Linked DNA regions of Homo sapiens: region 2 is linked to region 1. The links come from fine-mapping of genetic effects on gene expression. Tissue or cell type: gastroesophageal junction. Region 1 holds a variant in brackets; the other region holds the start of a gene. All regions are shown on one strand. Distances are from middle to middle.

Region 1 (8,099 bases):
TCTGAAGTGCCGTATTTAATATATATTGCCTTGTAGTTCCTCTGCAGTGACATTCTGCCTAGGCTTAGCTCTTACGTGGATCAAAAGGCCCTAATTCCTCCTCCTCTTTTGAAGTGCATTTTTACAGGATATACGGTTCTAAGTGGACTGTGTTTTTCTCTGCGCATGTTAAGGTGGTTCTATTCATGCTGTTTTCTACTGTTCTGATGAGGAATTTTCTCATTCTGTTTTCCTTACTGTGAAATCTCTTACTTCTGACTATATACATGATTTTCTTTTATTTTTGGACTTTGGCCGTTTGTGATGCACCTGGGTCTAGCTTTCTAAACTGAGCTACTTCGACCTGAGGGTGGGTGCATTTTAACAGATTTTGAAGTCTTGACTGTTATTTCTGCAGATATTTCTGTTTTCTTTTGCTTTCTTAGAGTTCCATTTCTGAAGGAGTATTTCTCAAATTTTTCTGATGTCCCACTCTGTCTTTTGGGTCTTTGGTACATGTGCCCTGTCCTGGGTGCTGTCCCACAGTCTCTCCAGTCACTGGTGTCACGGCCCTGGGTGTCCCACAGTCCCTCCAGTCACTGGTGTCACGGCCCTGGGTGTTGTCCCACAGTCTCTGCAGTCACTGGTGTCACGGCCCTGGGTGTCCCACAGTCTCCAGTCACTGGTGTCACGGCCATGGGTGTCCCACAGTCTCTCCAGTCACTGGTGTCACGGCCATGGGTGTCCCACAGTCTCTCCAGTCACTGGTGTCACGGCCATGGGTGTCCCACAGTCTCTCCAGTCACTGGTGTCACGGCCCTGGGTGTCCCACAGTCTCCAGTCACTGGTGTCACGGCCCTGGGTGACCCACAGTCTCTCCAGTCACTGGTGTCACGGCCATGGGTGTCCCACAGTCTCCAGTCACTGGTGTCACGGCCATGGGTGTCCCACAGTCTCTGCAGTCACTGGTGTCACGGCCCTGGGTGACCCACAGTCTCTCCAGTCACTGGTGTCACGGCCCTGGGTGACCCACAGTCTCTCCAGTCACTGGTGTCACGGCCATGGGTGTCCCACAGTCTCTCCAGTCACTGGTGTCACGGCCATGGGTGTCCCACAGTCACTGTCACTGGTGTCACGGCCATGGGTGACCCACAGTCTCTCCAGTCACTGGTGTCACGGCCATGGGTGACCCACAGTCTCTCCAGTCACTGGTGTCACGGCCCTGGGTGTCCCACAGTCCCTCCAGTCACTGGTGTCACGGCCATGGGTGACCCACAGTCCCTCCAGTCACTGGTGTCACGGCCATGGGTGTCCCACAGTCTCTCCAGTCACTGGTGTCACGGCCCTGGGTGACCCACAGTCCCTCCAGTCACTGGTGTCACGGCCATGGGTGTCCCACAGTCCCTCCAGTCACTGGTGTCACGGCCCTGGGTGTCCCACAGTCTCTCCAGTCACTGGTGTCACGGCCCTGGGTGACCCACAGTCCCTCCAGTCACTGGTGTCACGGCCATGGGTGTCCCACAGTCTCTCCAGTCACTGGTGTCACGGCCATGGGTGTCCCACAGTCCCTCCAGTCACTGGTGTCACGGCCATGGGTGACCCACAGTCCCTCCAGTCACTGGTGTCACGGCCATGGGTGTCCCACAGTCCCTCCAGTCACTGGTGTCACGGCCCTGGGTGTTGTCCCACAGTCTCCAGTCACTGGTGTCACGGCCCTGGGTGTTGTCCCACAGTCTCTGCAGTCACTGGTGTCACGGCCCTGGGTGTCCCACAGCCTCCAGTCACTGGTGTCACGGCCATGGGTGTCCCACAGTCTCTCCAGTCACTGGTGTCCCGGCCATGGGTGTCCCACAGTCTCTCCAGTCACTGGTGTCACGGCCATGGGTGTCCCACAGTCTCTCCAGTCACTGGTGTCACGGCCATGGGTGTCCCACAGTCACTGTCACTGGTGTCACGGCCATGGGTGACCCACAGTCTCTCCAGTCACTGATGTCACGGCCATGGGTGACCCACAGTCTCTCCAGTCACTGGTGTCACGGCCCTGGGTGTCCCACAGTCACTGTCACTGGTGTCACGGCCATGGGTGACCCACAGTCTCTCCAGTCACTGATGTCACGGCCATGGGTGACCCACAGTCTCTCCAGTCACTGGTGTCACGGCCATGGGTGTCCCACAGTCTCTCCAGTCACTGGTGTCACGGCCCTGGGTGTCCCACAGTCTCCAGTCACTGGTGTCACGGCCATGGGTGTCCCACAGTCACTGTCACTGGTGTCACGGCCATGGGTGACCCACAGTCTCTCCAGTCACTGGTGTCACGGCCATGGGTGACCCACAGTCTCTCCAGTCACTGGTGTCACGGCCATGGGTGTCCCACAGTCCCTCCAGTCACTGGTGTCACGGCCATGGGTGACCCACAGTCCCTCCAGTCACTGGTGTCACGGCCATGGGTGTCCCACAGTCTCTCCAGTCACTGGTGTCACGGCCCTGGGTGACCCACAGTCCCTCCAGTCACTGGTGTCACGGCCATGGGTGTCCCACAGTCTCTCCAGTCACTGGTGTCACGGCCCTGGGTGACCCACAGTCCCTCCAGTCACTGGTGTCACGGCCATGGGTGTCCCACAGTCCCTCCAGTCACTGGTGTCACGGCCATGGGTGTCCCACAGTCCCTCCAGTCACTGGTGTCACGGCCCTGGGTGACCCACAGTCCCTCCAGTCACTGGTGTCACGGCCCTGGGTGTCCCACAGTCCCTCCAGTCACTGGTGTCACGGCCCTGGGTGACCCACAGTCCCTCCAGTCACTGGTGTCACGGCCATGGGTGTCCCACAGTCCCTCCAGTCACTGGTGTCACGGCCATGGGTGTCCCACAGTCACTGTCACTGGTGTCACGGCCATGGGTGACCCACAGTCTCTCCAGTCACTGGTGTCACGGCCCTGGGTGTCCCACAGTCCCTCCAGTCACTGGTGTCACGGCCCTGGGTGACCCACAGTCACTGTCACTGGTGTCACGGCCATGGGTGTCCCACAGTCCCTCCAGTCACTGGTGTCACGGCCATGGGTGTCCCACAGTCACTGTCACTGGTGTCACGGCCATGGGTGACCCACAGTCTCTCCAGTCACTGGTGTCACGGCCATGGGTGACCCACAGTCCCTCCAGTCACTGGTGTCACTGCCATGGGTGTCCCACAGTCCCTCCAGTCACTGGTGTCACGGCCCTGGGTGACCCACAGTCTCTCCAGTCACTGGTGTCACGGCCCTGGGTGTCCCACAGTCTCGCCAGTCACTGGTGTCACGGCCATGGGTGTCCCACAGTCCCTCCAGTCACTGGTGTCACGGCCATGGGTGTCCCACAGTCCCTCCAGTCACTGGTGTCACGGCCCTGGGTGTCCCACAGTCTCGCCAGTCACTGGTGTCACGACCATGGGTGACCCACAGTCCCTCCAGTCACTGGTGTCACGGCCATGGGTGTCCCACAGTCTCTCCAGTCACTGGTGTCATGGCCATGGGTGACCCACAGTCTCTCCAGTCACTAATGTTACAACCCTCGGTGTTGCCTCACAGCTCTCTCTTTTATTTTTCTCTCTCTCTGTGCTTCTGTTTGAATAATTTCTTTTTTTTTTTTTTTTTTTTGGGAGACGGAGTCTTGCTCTGTCACCCAGGCTGGAGTGCAGTGGCATGATGTCGATGATGTCGGCTCACTGCAACCTCCATCTCCTGGGTTCAAGCGATTCTCCTGCCTCAGCCTTCCCAGTAGCTGGGATTATAGGTGTGCGCCACCACACCCGGCTAATTTTTGTTTTATTTTTAGTAGACACGGGGTTTCACCATATTGGCCAGGCTGGTCTTGAATTCCTGACCTCGTGAGCCACCTGCCTCGGCCTCCCAAAGTACTGGGATTACAGGCGTGAGCCAGTGTGCCCGGCCTCTGAATAATTTCTATCGACATGTCTTTGATGCTACCAATCCTCTTTTCTGATATTCCAGATTTCTATTTAGTCTGTTTCACAAAATTTTTATTTCCCATATTGTATATTTTAATAGGTGCTCTTATGTGTTTTTAATTTTTCTGCTGAAATTCTCCATTTTCTCACCTTGCCCCTATCTTTTCTTCTGTAATCTTTAACCTTTTAATAATAGTTACTTTAAATCATTGTCATCCTATTGCTTTGCTTTTTTTTTTTTTTTTTTTTTTTTGAGACGAGGTCTCGCTCTATCGCCCAGGCTGGAGTGCAGCGGCGTGAACTCGGCGCACAGCAACTGCCACTTCCCAGGTTCAAGTGATATTGTCCTGCCTCAGCCTCCCGAGTAGCTGGGACTACAGGCACCCACCACCATGCCCGGCTAGTTTTTGTATTTTTAGTAGAGACGAGGTTTCACCATGTTTGCCAGGATGGTCTTGAACTCCTGACCTCAGGTGATCCACCCGCCTCGGCCTCCCAAAGTGCTGGGATTACAGGCGTGAGCCACTGAGCCCAGCCCTTTTTTTCCTTTTCTTTTTCTTTTTTTTTTTGAGACGGCGTCTCGCTTTGTTGCCCAGGCTGGAGTGCAGTGGTGTGATCTCAGTTCACTGCAACCCCTGCCTCCCAGGTTTAAGTGATTCTCCTGCCTCAGCCTCCGGAGTAGCTGGGATTACAGGCGCACACCACCACACCGCACACGCTGCCACGCCCGGCTAATTTTTGTATTCTTAGTAGAGACGGGCTTTCACCATGTTGGCCAGGCTGGTCTCAAACTCTTGACCTTGTGATCTGCCCTCCTCGGCCTCCCAAAGTGCTGGGATGACAGGCGTGAGCCGCTGTGCCCAGCCCGAAAGTTATACTCTTAAGAC[C/T]CAGTCCGGGGATGCCAGGGCCTCCAGAAACAGGAATCAGGAGTCACCATCCACATTATGATGTTTCGGTGCTTCTATTTCTCTGCTGCCCGAACTGACCTTCTTCTCAGGGGCAGCGCCCTTTGTGGCGACTGAGATGGCACCAGAAGCTCCAGGCACACAACCTTACATCTGTGATTTCTGTGGGAAGCCTGTATCTTGCCCAACTGTTCTAACAAAACTCCTGGGTAAAATTTGTTCTTGGGTCTCGTGCCCATAACTGAATCAGGAACTGCCGAGCAGAAGGGGTTTCCTGGTTGGCCAGGCCAGGGTCCCTTGTTCCCCTTCGGTAGCAGGGCAGGCCCCATGGAGAAGGAATAGTAAGAGGGAGGAGCACATGGGCAGGCCGGGCGCAGCCACCCAGAGGCATGAGCGTCCCATTTGTGTGGGGTGAGCACAGAGGTCAGGAGGGCAGTGCAGGAACAACTTCCCTCTTAGGCCAAGAAATCTGAAACTGGGAAGGCAGTGGGGAGCCTTAGTGTGTTTTTTAGCTGAAGTAGAGTCACGCTTTAGGGAGATTGGATTTGACTGGAATATCTAAGATAGGTTGGAGCTGGGAGAGACCCTGGGATGCCATTGTTGACTAATATTCTGTTCTTGTCCATGGTGTCTTGTGTTTCTGAGGGTGCACTAGATGTGGGTAAGACAGTTAAGGAGCAGAGGGGATACTGTTTTGCCTCAGGAAGGGCTTGCCCCTCTCCTGTCAGCAGCTGGGTTGATGTGCTGGTCTCGAGGAGCTGGGCTGGCCTGCTCACCGCTTGTGTAGCGTAGCTTTGCCTCTGGGTTAGCTGTGGGGTGGTGGAATCCTGCCCTTCCTGCAGCCCAGACCCAGGCAGGAGGACCTGGAGGGCCCGCTGTGCCTTGGGGCTCTTCCGGATTTGTCTGACACCAGGCTCCTAGGACTAATGAGGCCTCCACCAGACTTGGTCTTGACTAACCTCAGGGGAGCTCATACCTCTCTAGAACAAACTTACTGTCCTCAGCTTTTCGGCAGCCATAAATAAAAGTCATTTGTGTTCGTTTATTTAATGCTTTCCTTTTACAGTGAAGTGAAGGTCTTTGATGACCTCCTTCCTACCTGCTAACCAAATATGGAAATCTGTTCTGGACAGAGTCCATGGCCGTGCCAGGAAGCAGGCGTTAGCCAGGGGCCTGCCTGGAGATCAGCCCTCCTGAGACAATTTCTGTGGGGGTGGAAGTGGGGGAGGGAGAAAGTCGCTCAGAACTGATGGTCCTGGACCGGCCACGGTCCCCAGAGCCTCAGCCTCCCAGGCCCAGGCTTTGTTGAAGATGTCCGGGCCCTGGACTGGCGCTGTCTGGGCCCCCACTGACCTGACCCAGCTGTTTCTCTCTCCCTGATGGTCCTTGTTTTCTCGGTTTGTAGTTCCTGGGTAGGATGGCCAGATAAAATACAGGATGCCCAGTTGGGCTCGGATTACAGATAAACGAATGTGTAAGTATGTCCCATGCAGTATTCGGGACACATACTGAAAACCGGTTTGTTGCTCTTCTGGGATTCAAATGTAACGGGGTGTCCTGTTTGTTTCACAGGTATCAGGACTCAGCTAGGGGGTCCTTGATGTTTATTTGCCCCATTGCTGGGCTGTTCTCAGGAGGATGTTGAGACCCTGGCGTGGAGCGCCTCCTCGGCGTGTCCAGCAGAGGGCGGCCGTGCCTCCCGGAGGCATCGCGGGGCCCAGAGCGCAGCCCAGCCCCGTCCCCTGGTCCTGTGGCTCGAGGTCGGGGAGGGAGGGGCGGTGGTCGCTGCGGGGCAAATGTTTCCACTCACCCGGAGCCACGACCCACGGCCTGTGCAGGGAGAGTCGAAAGCGCGGCCCCCGGTGAGCACTTGGGAGGTGAACCGGTTCCCCGCCCTGGTGGGCTGTCACCAGTCACATCAAGAGATGCAGGACGGCGGTGGCCTCACCAGAGGCATTACGAGTTCTCTGGAGCCCCTCCGCCACCACCGTCCTTGTTCTTCCTTGAGTCGGAACCAGGTCCTTGGGGTCTGTGGGTGCTCAGTGGCTTTGCAGACCTGCAAAGATTTGAGGTCTTCCAGGTGCCTCTCCTTGCCTTCACCAGATGCTGGTTTCGGGGGCAGGGATAGGGCTGCCAGGCATCAGGAAGGTTTGTGAACGGGGATTTAATCGAGTGTTTCGCGGGGTGGCCCCTGCCATCTCTGCCCCTCGTTTTGTACGAGAAGCAGGCGGAAACCAGCTCTCCCTTTGAGAACGCACTGTTGCCCTCCGCTGTTGCTTGTGTGTCTTGCCTTGCTGTGACCCAGGGAGAGCTCCCTGCAGCTGTCAGCTCCCTGGTGACCTCAGGCTCTGGGCATCCCAGTAAGCACGGCTTGCGCACCCACTGTGTGCCAGCTCCCACTTTCCTGGAGCTCGTGGGAGGAGACGGGGACAGTGAACGAACGCACAGACTGAGATGGTGGGAGGGGCTGTGCGTTCCGGGTTGTCTGCACGAGGGGCTCTGGCAGGGGGGCCGCGTCCCGGCTTGTCTGCGCGAGGGGCTCTGGCGACCACGTCCAGCACTACTGCTGTGTGTTTTTCTTTGCTGTGACCCAGTGAAGACCTCCTCACAGACAGAGCACAGCAGACTCGCGGTGCTGAAACCCGGAGGGTTACCCTGTCCCTGACTGACTGTAAGGTTACACTAAATTAAGAGGCACTCCAAGGATTGCAAAGTCCGAGGGGAATTTTGAATTCGTGGGTCCTGGATTGTGAATTTGAAGGCAGCGGTTTCCAACCCTTTTAAATCTTGACCCCAGGAAGAAGTACCTTCTACATCTTGACCCAGCAAACACGTGATACCTACCCACACTGTATTTTGTTCAATTAACCCTCAAATGATGTTTCCTAATGTTTGGCCCTGGGTCAAGCATTTCACAAACTATTTAATCTTCTCTACAATCCCAGGTGGTAGCTACTGTCTTGCCGCCTTTATGCAGACAGAGACTGAGGGATACCTTAGATGTCTTTCCAAACCATCCACCCCCTCAGCCTTCCCTGCCCACTGCCTGCACGTCAAACCCACTGACGGGCACTCGTTCGACTCCAAGAGCCCCGTGCCAGGAACCTGGGAGACAACTCCCGTTTTGACTCTGGGCAAGGTACTTCACCTCTCAAGTCCCAGAGAAGCAGAGAAAGCAACGGCAGGTATAGTGGCTGGCTGCACTTAGGTGGCACCTACTGTGTGCCAGGCCCCCTTCTGCCCACTTCACAGGTGTCTTAGTCTCCATAGAGTCCA
Region 2 (8,088 bases), 47 kb before region 1:
GATACTTGACCCTGAGCAGAGGGGGAAGTTAGTGCTTGTGTAGGGGAGGGTTTGATGATGCACCCAGCATCCACCACAGGCCACCCCATGCACTACTCACAGCTCCTCCAGTATCTTGTGAGGCCTCTTTTTTCTAGGGAAAATTTGCAAGAACGACACTGCTTGGGTGAACTACAGCGTCCCCTGCCTCCCCGCCTCGGGGCTGCAATGGATTCATCACCCCCAGCTCCACCACGCAGTCTCCATCTGCTCCAAGAGGTGTAGCGATGCGGTGACCTGGACCCTCATCCCGGGACACCATGCCTCTGTCAAACTTGGGAGCTGCCCGGTGACCATGAAAACCAGGCAGAGAAGAAACAGGGAGCCTGGAGTGGAGGCACATGCAGGCGTATCTCCTCCAACGTGAGGTGTCCACTCAAACCACTGTGCCACGGCCAGGGGCACCCTCTCCAGCCTCTCCCCTTAAGCTCCCTGCTCAAGATTCGCTGCTCTTTATTTTCTGAGTTTTACTTCATTTTATGCTCATGGAATAATTGCAAGAATGAGTATAGTAGAAACCCTCCGTACTGGCCGGGTGCTATGGCTCACGCCTGTAATCCCAGCACTTTGGGAGGGTGAGGTGGGTGGATCACGAGGTCAACAGATCGAGACCATCCTGGCCAACATGGTGAAACCCCATCTCTACTAAAAATACAAAAATTAGCCAGGTGCGGCACATGCCTGCAGTCCCAGCTACTCCAGAGGCTGAGCCAGGAGAATGGCGTGAACCCGGGAGGTGGGGCTTGCAGTGAGCCAAGATTGTGCCACTGCACTCCAGCCTGGGCAACAGAGCGAGAATCCATCTCAAAAAAAAAAAAAAAAAAAAAAAGATTTACACAGGTTTATCTTTTCTGGCATTAACTTTTTTTTGTTGTTGTCGCTGTGGTTTTTTTTTTTTTTTTGAGACGGAGTCTTGCTCTGTCGCCCAGGCTGGAATGCAATGGTGCCATCTCGGCTCACTGCAGCCTCCACCTCCCGGTTTCAAGCGATTCTCTTGCCTCAGCCTCCCGAGTAGTTGGGACTACAGGTGTGCACCACCACGCCCGGCTAATTTTTTGTATTATTTTAGTAGAGATCAGGTTTCACCATGCTAGCTAGGCTGGTCTTGAACTCCTGACCTCGTGATCTTCCTGCTTCAGCCTCCCAAAGTGCTGGGATTACAGGTGTGAGCCACAGCGCCTGGCCTGTTTTGTTTTGAGATGGAGTTTTGCTCTTGTCGCCCAGGCTGGAGTGTAGTGGCGCAATCTCAGCTCACTGCAACCTCCGCCTCTCGGGTTCAAGTGATTCTCCTGCCTCAGCCTCCTGAGCAGCTGGGATTACAGGCACCCGCCACCACGCCCCATTGTGGCATTAACATTTCTGAAGAATACAGTCCCTCTTTTGTTTAACAGAATATTCCTTATTTGGGTTTGTCTGAAATTTCCTCATATGTAGATATGGGTTGTGCATTGCTGGCTGGATTCAGTGATGCCGTGTCCTGCTTTGGACACCACATCCAGGTGCACATGGTGTGCACCTGCCCTTTACCAGGGATGCTGAGTTTTATCACCCACCCAACAAGTGGCTTCATTTCTCCACTGCGACTAACAGTCTACGGAGACAGACTTTCAGACCTTAAAATATCCTTCACTCTTTTTTTTTTTTTTTTTTGAGACAGGTCTCACTCTGTTGCCCAGGCTGGGGTGCAGTGGCACAATCACTGCTTACCGCAGCCTCGACCTCCTGGGCTCAAGAGATCCTCCCACTTCGGCCTCCAGAGTAGCTGGGACTACAGGCACATTATCGTCATGCCCTCTAATGTTTAAAGTTTTTTTTTTTTTTTTTTGAAACAGTGTCTCACTCTGTTTCCCAGGCTGGAGTGCAGTGATCTTAGCTCACTGCAACCTCTGCCTTCCCAGGTTCAAGTGATTCTCTTGCCTTAGCCTCCACAGAATAGCTGGGATTATGGGCACTCGCCACCACGCCCGGATAATTTTTGTATTTTTAGTAGAGACAGGGTTTCACCCTGTTGCCCAGGCTGGTCTCAAACTCCTGACCTCAAGTGATCCTCCTGCCTCTGCCTCCCCAAGTGTTAGGATTAGAGGTGTGAGTCACCGTTCCAAGCCACAATACCCTTCTCTTCACCCAAGTCCTCATTTGACATCTATGTGATGATTCTTGCCAAGCCCTCTCCTAAGAGTCTTCCCTCGTTTTGCCAGGTGGACTCAAGCCCTTGTCTTCGGGCCCCTCCACCTGTTACAGCACAGCACCTCACTCTCTTATCTGTTCATGCTTCTCCCTGCTTCACAGGACCTCTGGCTACCCAGCACCCAGTTGAGGACTGCATAAGATATGTGTTTAGTTCACTGAATGACTGAATGAATAATAACAAATGAATAATAAAGGAAGGAACCAACTCTTGCACAAATCAGTGAGGACTCTTCAACACGAGGGCCAGAACCCTCAATCTCAATGATGTAAACCAAAAAAGGAGTGAGGGTAGACCCCTCCAGAGTGGTTCTTCTATCTCTTGGTTGGTGAATTCTCAGAGGACTGAGTAATGATTTTGCATCAGGAATCAAGGCTGATGCATGTCAAGTTCTCACTATTCATTGGCTGATCACTGGGAAACAGGAATGAGACTCATTCTCTTCTTCCTGGTCCCCAATTCCCTTCCTCCTGGTCCCCAATTCCCTTCTTCCTGGTCTCCAGTTCTCTTCTTCCTGGTCTCAGTAGGAACCGCCCTCCACTCATTTGCGCAAGCCAGACATCTGGAGGCCATCCTTCACTCTCTCCAGCTTCCCTCCATCAGCGAGTCTTGTGGTGTCCACCTTCTCAAGTCTCTCTGCACTCTGGTCCAGGCCCCACAGCTCCCACCTGGCCCCTGCCTCTTCACGCCCCACCCCTGCTTCCTATCCTCTCTCTGCATCGTGCGCCCCGAAGATTCACGGCACTTATCCGTCTCAAATTTAAGGTGTGGCGAGTCCTTGCCTTCCCATCCTCCACTCTAAACGCCCTGAAGACAGGCGTTAGGGCTGTCTCCTTCAAACCCTCAGGATCAGAACGTGCACGTGTTCCAGAAATGTTCAATCTGCGAAACGACGGACTGCAGAACCAAATGGCCCTGGGGTCAAGCCCACCTCCCTGCCTCCCGCCTTGGGCTCTCCGGCGCGGGGCCACCGTTTCTAAAACCTCTCCGACTGGTGCGCGTTCGCAAGCTCCCCGATTGGTTCCTCCGCGCGCTAGTTTGCTCATCACGGGTGCGAAAGTGCAGAAAATTCCAGAACCACGCAGCCCGGACACCAATTCTGGCTCTATCACTGACACTCTGGGTGGCCCGTCGCCCTGGGCCTCAGTTTCCTAGTCTGCCACGCGGGGTATTAACAGCGAGCAGCCGAGGGAATGAAGAGGTCACACAGGACCACGTGGTCCCCACGCAGGTGTGATTATCAGGAATTCGTATTTTTATGGAATGCAGTCTCCTCCGCCAAGGCCAAGGCCAAGATCAGGGTCCAGCAGAGACGGCCGGAAAGACACCGCAAGCTCGCCAGAAGCCGCCGGCCACGCTCGGCTGCGCGCCCGCGCCCGCGCCCGCGCACCTACTACGCGCCCGGCCCGCTCTCCGCCCCCTCCAGGCTCCGCCCCCTGCCCCGCCCTCCAGGCTCCACAGCCAATGAGTGCGCGGCCCCTCATCCGGGGATCCCGGCGCGGCCACCGCCTCCCGCGCACACACGGCCATGGCGGAGGTGAGTGAGCGGGCCGGGGGAGCCGGCCCCCCGCCCCCGCGCGTCCGCGCCCCCCGCCGCCGTGGCTCGGCCTCGTCGTGGGCCCCAGGGACGGAGAGCCCCGCTCTGGAGCTCTGAGGCCGGCCGGGGCGCCTGGCCCGTCCGGGGCCGGAGGGGCGCGGGGCTCCATCGGCGGCCGCCCCCGGCCGGCCCCCACCCCCCAACTCCCCCGGCTGCCACATCGCGGGCTGCAGTGCGCATGCGCGGCGGCGCGGGGCGGGCGGGGGCCGGGGTGGGGGAGGGGAGGGACGCGGGGCGGGGCTGGTGTCGGGGGTCCGGTGGGCGCGCGGCTCCGTTCCAGGGTCCGGCTCCGGTTCCCGGCCCCGGCCCGGGCCCCGCGGCGCGCAGGCCTCCCCTCCCGCGCCTTTGCCAACTTTGCCGAGTGCTGGGGCCGCCAGGCGCCCCGCGCTCCCCATCGGGATCCCGGTGGACCCACCGCGCCTCCGCCGCCCGCGAGCCCCCCGGCGGGGCTGGGTCAGACCCCGGGCGGGATTTGAACTCCCGACGCGGACCCGCCTGGCGCGAACTGGGCGCAGGGTGGGTGGGTCTGCCGGGGCCTAGAGAGCGTCGGGGCTGATCTCAGAAGAGTTGGACCAGCCTCTCCCGGGCACGAAGTTACTTCTGGAGCCTCCTCCCTCGTCCAGGAAACAAGCCCGGGACCCTTTATCTGAAATGTTTGGGACCAGCTATATTTTGGAATCCAGAATTTTTCCAATTTGAGGATCTGTGGGATTTTGGACTGTGATGTTTGATCAAACCCACCTAGGACTGTCTAGGATAAGACAACAGATAGCTTCGTGTCAGGTCAAACCAGGAAGGAAGAAACTTTCGCTTTTGAAGCTTTTTTTGATTTTGGAGTGGTGGATGAGCCTGTGTGGACTTGCTTTCACCTTGGAGGGCCCTGGTGAAGATGGAAAGAGATAATGTAGGTGAAGGTGCGGCGGCTGCGAGGTGCTCAGTCAGTGGGACTCAGTGCATGACTTCTGTGCGCAGAAGTTACGACAGGCGGGCAGACTCAAGAGCTGATCCTATCTCTGGGATAGAGCCCAAAGGAAAAGGTGCCCACCCAGCCAGGCACAGCCGCCTCGTGGGAAGCCGGGATTGGAACTGCGGCCTGGCCGTGGTGCCACGTTGCGTGTTTATGTCTTGGGCGTTGTGGGAGGCAGGACTGGCCATTCTCTCCCCCTGGTGACGACCTCAGGGGCAGTAACAGGCCCTGTGTTTATGCCAAAGACGGTGTAGGTGTCTCGATACTAGGCCAGACCACCGGCCAGTTCCTTCATCGAGAATTAGTTCTTCTTGAGACGCTTAGGGAGACTGAGTCCCCATGCAGATGGTGGCTGTCCTCCAGGGTCGGAGGCAGAAGCCGCGTCTCCCAGTGGCCCTGCAGCGACGTGGTGGTCGAATGAGTTGTGCTCCTGGAATCTGGGCAACACACGTGGCCTGACAGGTAGCTCTGTGTCTGGGATGGCACAAGTCAGACTCCCAAGCCAGCCTCCCCCAGAGCTGCCATGTGGCTGTTCTGCCCTGCTCTAGGCTGAGCTCCGTAAATGTGCACAGCAGCTTGTGGTCCGGCTGCTCCTGTTAACCCTGTTTTACACTTTGGGGTGGTGCCCTGTTGAGTGAATTTGATTTGATTTTCTAAGGAGGTCCCGCTCTGTCCTCGGCCTGAGGATCTGGGAGTGAATGGAGCAGACAGGGCCTCTCCTACAGGGATGCAGAGTCTGGTCAGAGAGAGACGTGGGTGGGTTAGGACCAACAAGTATGAGGTGCTGAGCGTGAGGAGCCATGGCAAGCTGTCTGACCACCGGACTTGTTCTGTGTGGTCTTGGGCAGGTTGCCCAGTGACTCAGAACTTCCTTTTCCTCATCTCTGAAATGGGAAGTTTAATGGTCACCCTTCAGAGCTAGGAGGTCTGATGAGGTCCTGCCACAACGGCTTGTACATGGAAGTTGAATCTTGTGAAGTTGACGATATTCCACTGTTTTTAACCCGTAAAAGTGGCAATTTGTAACTTTATAGCACGTGATCAGTACTAGCTACTTTATTCTGTATCAGTATCCCAGAATAATCATAAGCACCACAGTGGCAGACGGGAATGCTTCATACTTTTCTCAGGCATACTAGATTGATCTTTTAAAAACCTAAGAGCACCATCTTTTGCTCCTACCTAAAACCCTCCATGGCTTTTCATGGTCCCTGGGATAAAATGCTCCTCCTTGCTGAGTCCCACAGCCCTGTGAGGTGGTCCCCACGGATCTGCCCCCTACTCTAGGGCCCTGGGCTCCTGTTTGCTGGTGCACTCTACCCATTTGGGGGCTGCCAACGATGGTTCCACCTCGACTGAGGCCCCCCAGGCCTTCCCTGACCCGCAGTTGCAGAGCCCGTGCGCCCTGTTTTCTCTTCTCGGTACCATACATGTCCACTTGTTTGTTGTCTGTGTCCAAAACTAGCAACTCCATGTGGGTGGAGGCAGGTGGAACTTGTTTCTCAGGTTAACCACCACGCCACTGCCTTGCTGAGCCCAGAGTGGGCGCCCAGGGAACATTGGTCAGACGGAGGAGTGGGGTGCTGGGTAGTCCAACAAGCGCCTGGCACTTGAGTTGGTGTGGGTGGGAGGAGGGTCAAGCATGGCTCTTAGGAGGAGGTTGTTTCAGTCACACTGGGGAGAGGGCTTGGGGCATGGGAGAGGTAGGTGCAGCCATCTTGGCGAATGGAACCTGCCACCCTGTCATTTTGGGTTAAGCTTTGCAGGGTGGCCTCTTGTGTTTTTGGTGCACTCTATACCTGTGGGGGCTGCCCTGGGGGAAGGGCTGGTCTGTGCTCTGCACCCAGTCCTCTGGTGCAGTCTTTATGTTGAGTAGCTGGCTGCCGCTTCTACTGCCTGAAGACCCTGGTGGACGCCTGGGTCTGTGGCCTGTTGTCCTCTGGACCTTGTTTCTAGAATGCTGTTTACGCTTCCTTTGCTTTTTTTGTTGCCTGGAATACCGTTGGCCTGCTCCCCCTCTTTTTCCTGCTTCCACTTTGACAAAACAGAGGACTTTGTCTTTCCTGGGAGTGAACTCAGAGGGAAACATGCAGAGTGTTCTGAGTGAGTGAAGTAGAGTCCCTGGGAACCTGCTTTGAGAGTAGACTTGCACCTGGACACCAGGCAGGGGCAGCGGGAGGAAGAAGATCCATGAAGTCTGTATTCCGTGGTAAGTTCCAGGAACTCAGAGTCGCCTGGAAATGAACTTGGGGATCCCAGGCTGCTCAGGGCCTCCCTGTTAGCGGCCCTTTCTGCCGTTCCCAGCCGCTTCCCTCTTTGCCCCCCTCTGCCTTAGCTCTCCTGTTAAATGGCACGTCATATAAGGGCCAGATCCTCCTCAGACCCTGCAGACCACCTCTCCTGGGGCCATATGTTAACTCCCTGTTACTCGGTGTGGATCTCAAGCCTGCGGGACTGTTGTCAACTTGCCGTCCAGACTGGGGCCTCATTTGATGTGGTCGCCTGCCATCCCCTTGTTAGTCAGGCTCCTGGTTGCGGGAGTAGAAAGCCAGCCCCTGACTGAGGCAGGAACCGTTGCCCAGAGAACCTGTCCTCGACCCCTACCCAGAGGGTCCTAGAGGGGGCTGAGGGTGATTTCAGAGGTCACTTAGGATGCTTTCCCTGTGGCTTCACACCGCGTGTGGCTGTGTAGAGTGGTTGTGGGCTGGTGGCCACCTGCTGTGTCCTGGAAAGAGGTGAGGCCATCTCTGCCAGACCCAGGCCAACCCCAGGGCAGGAGGCGTGAGATGCCCCTGCAGCTGCCATGCACTCTGTGCTGCTTGCTTCCAGTCCCGTGGCCCCTTCCCCCTGGGGGCCCTGCTGGCTCTTCCTTCCCTCTGTCTTCTGTTTGCCCTCTGCCACCACGGAGCTAAACTTTCTAAAGCTGGATGGGTCCTGTCAGTCTCCACTTAGAGCTTGAGGTGCTCCTTGGTCCTTGGCAGCCTTGTTGCCAGAGTCACTCCAGGGCCAGTGGCTGCCCCAGCTCCCTTCCGTGGCTTTGCTGTACGTTGCTGTACAGTTGGCCCTTGAACCTCACGGGTTTGAACTGCATGGGTCACTTATACATGGATTTCCTTCCATCTCTGCCACCCCGAGACAGGAAGACCAACCCCTCCTCTTCCTCCTCAGCCTACTCAACGTGAAGATGATGAGGACGAAGACCTTTAGGATGATCCACTTCCACTTAATGAATAGTAAATACACTTTCTCTTTCTTACAATTTTCTTAATAACTTTTTCTGTAGTTTACTTTTTTTGT

Evidence for each region. PIP is the estimated chance that this variant, and not a neighbour inherited with it, causes the effect.
Region 2: it holds the start of MIER2, and the variant in region 1 is fine-mapped to the expression of MIER2 in gastroesophageal junction (GTEx, PIP 0.92).

Annotation. Positions count from the first base shown.
Region 1 is chr19:293,732-301,830 of GRCh38, reverse strand. No RefSeq gene overlaps it. Among named protein-coding and RNA genes, the nearest start is that of PLPP2, 6.4 kb to the right of the region's middle. RefSeq lists an enhancer at 6,985-7,834. The variant C/T (reference allele first, on the strand shown) is at 4,806.
Region 2 is chr19:340,450-348,537 of GRCh38, reverse strand. It overlaps MIER2 (MIER family member 2), which reads left to right and starts at 3,742. Exons shown (of 14, transcript NM_017550.3): 1 at 3,742-3,764. The coding sequence starts at 3,756. RefSeq lists silencers at 3,398-3,847, 3,918-3,967, 4,268-4,377 and enhancers at 4,686-5,637, 6,824-7,411.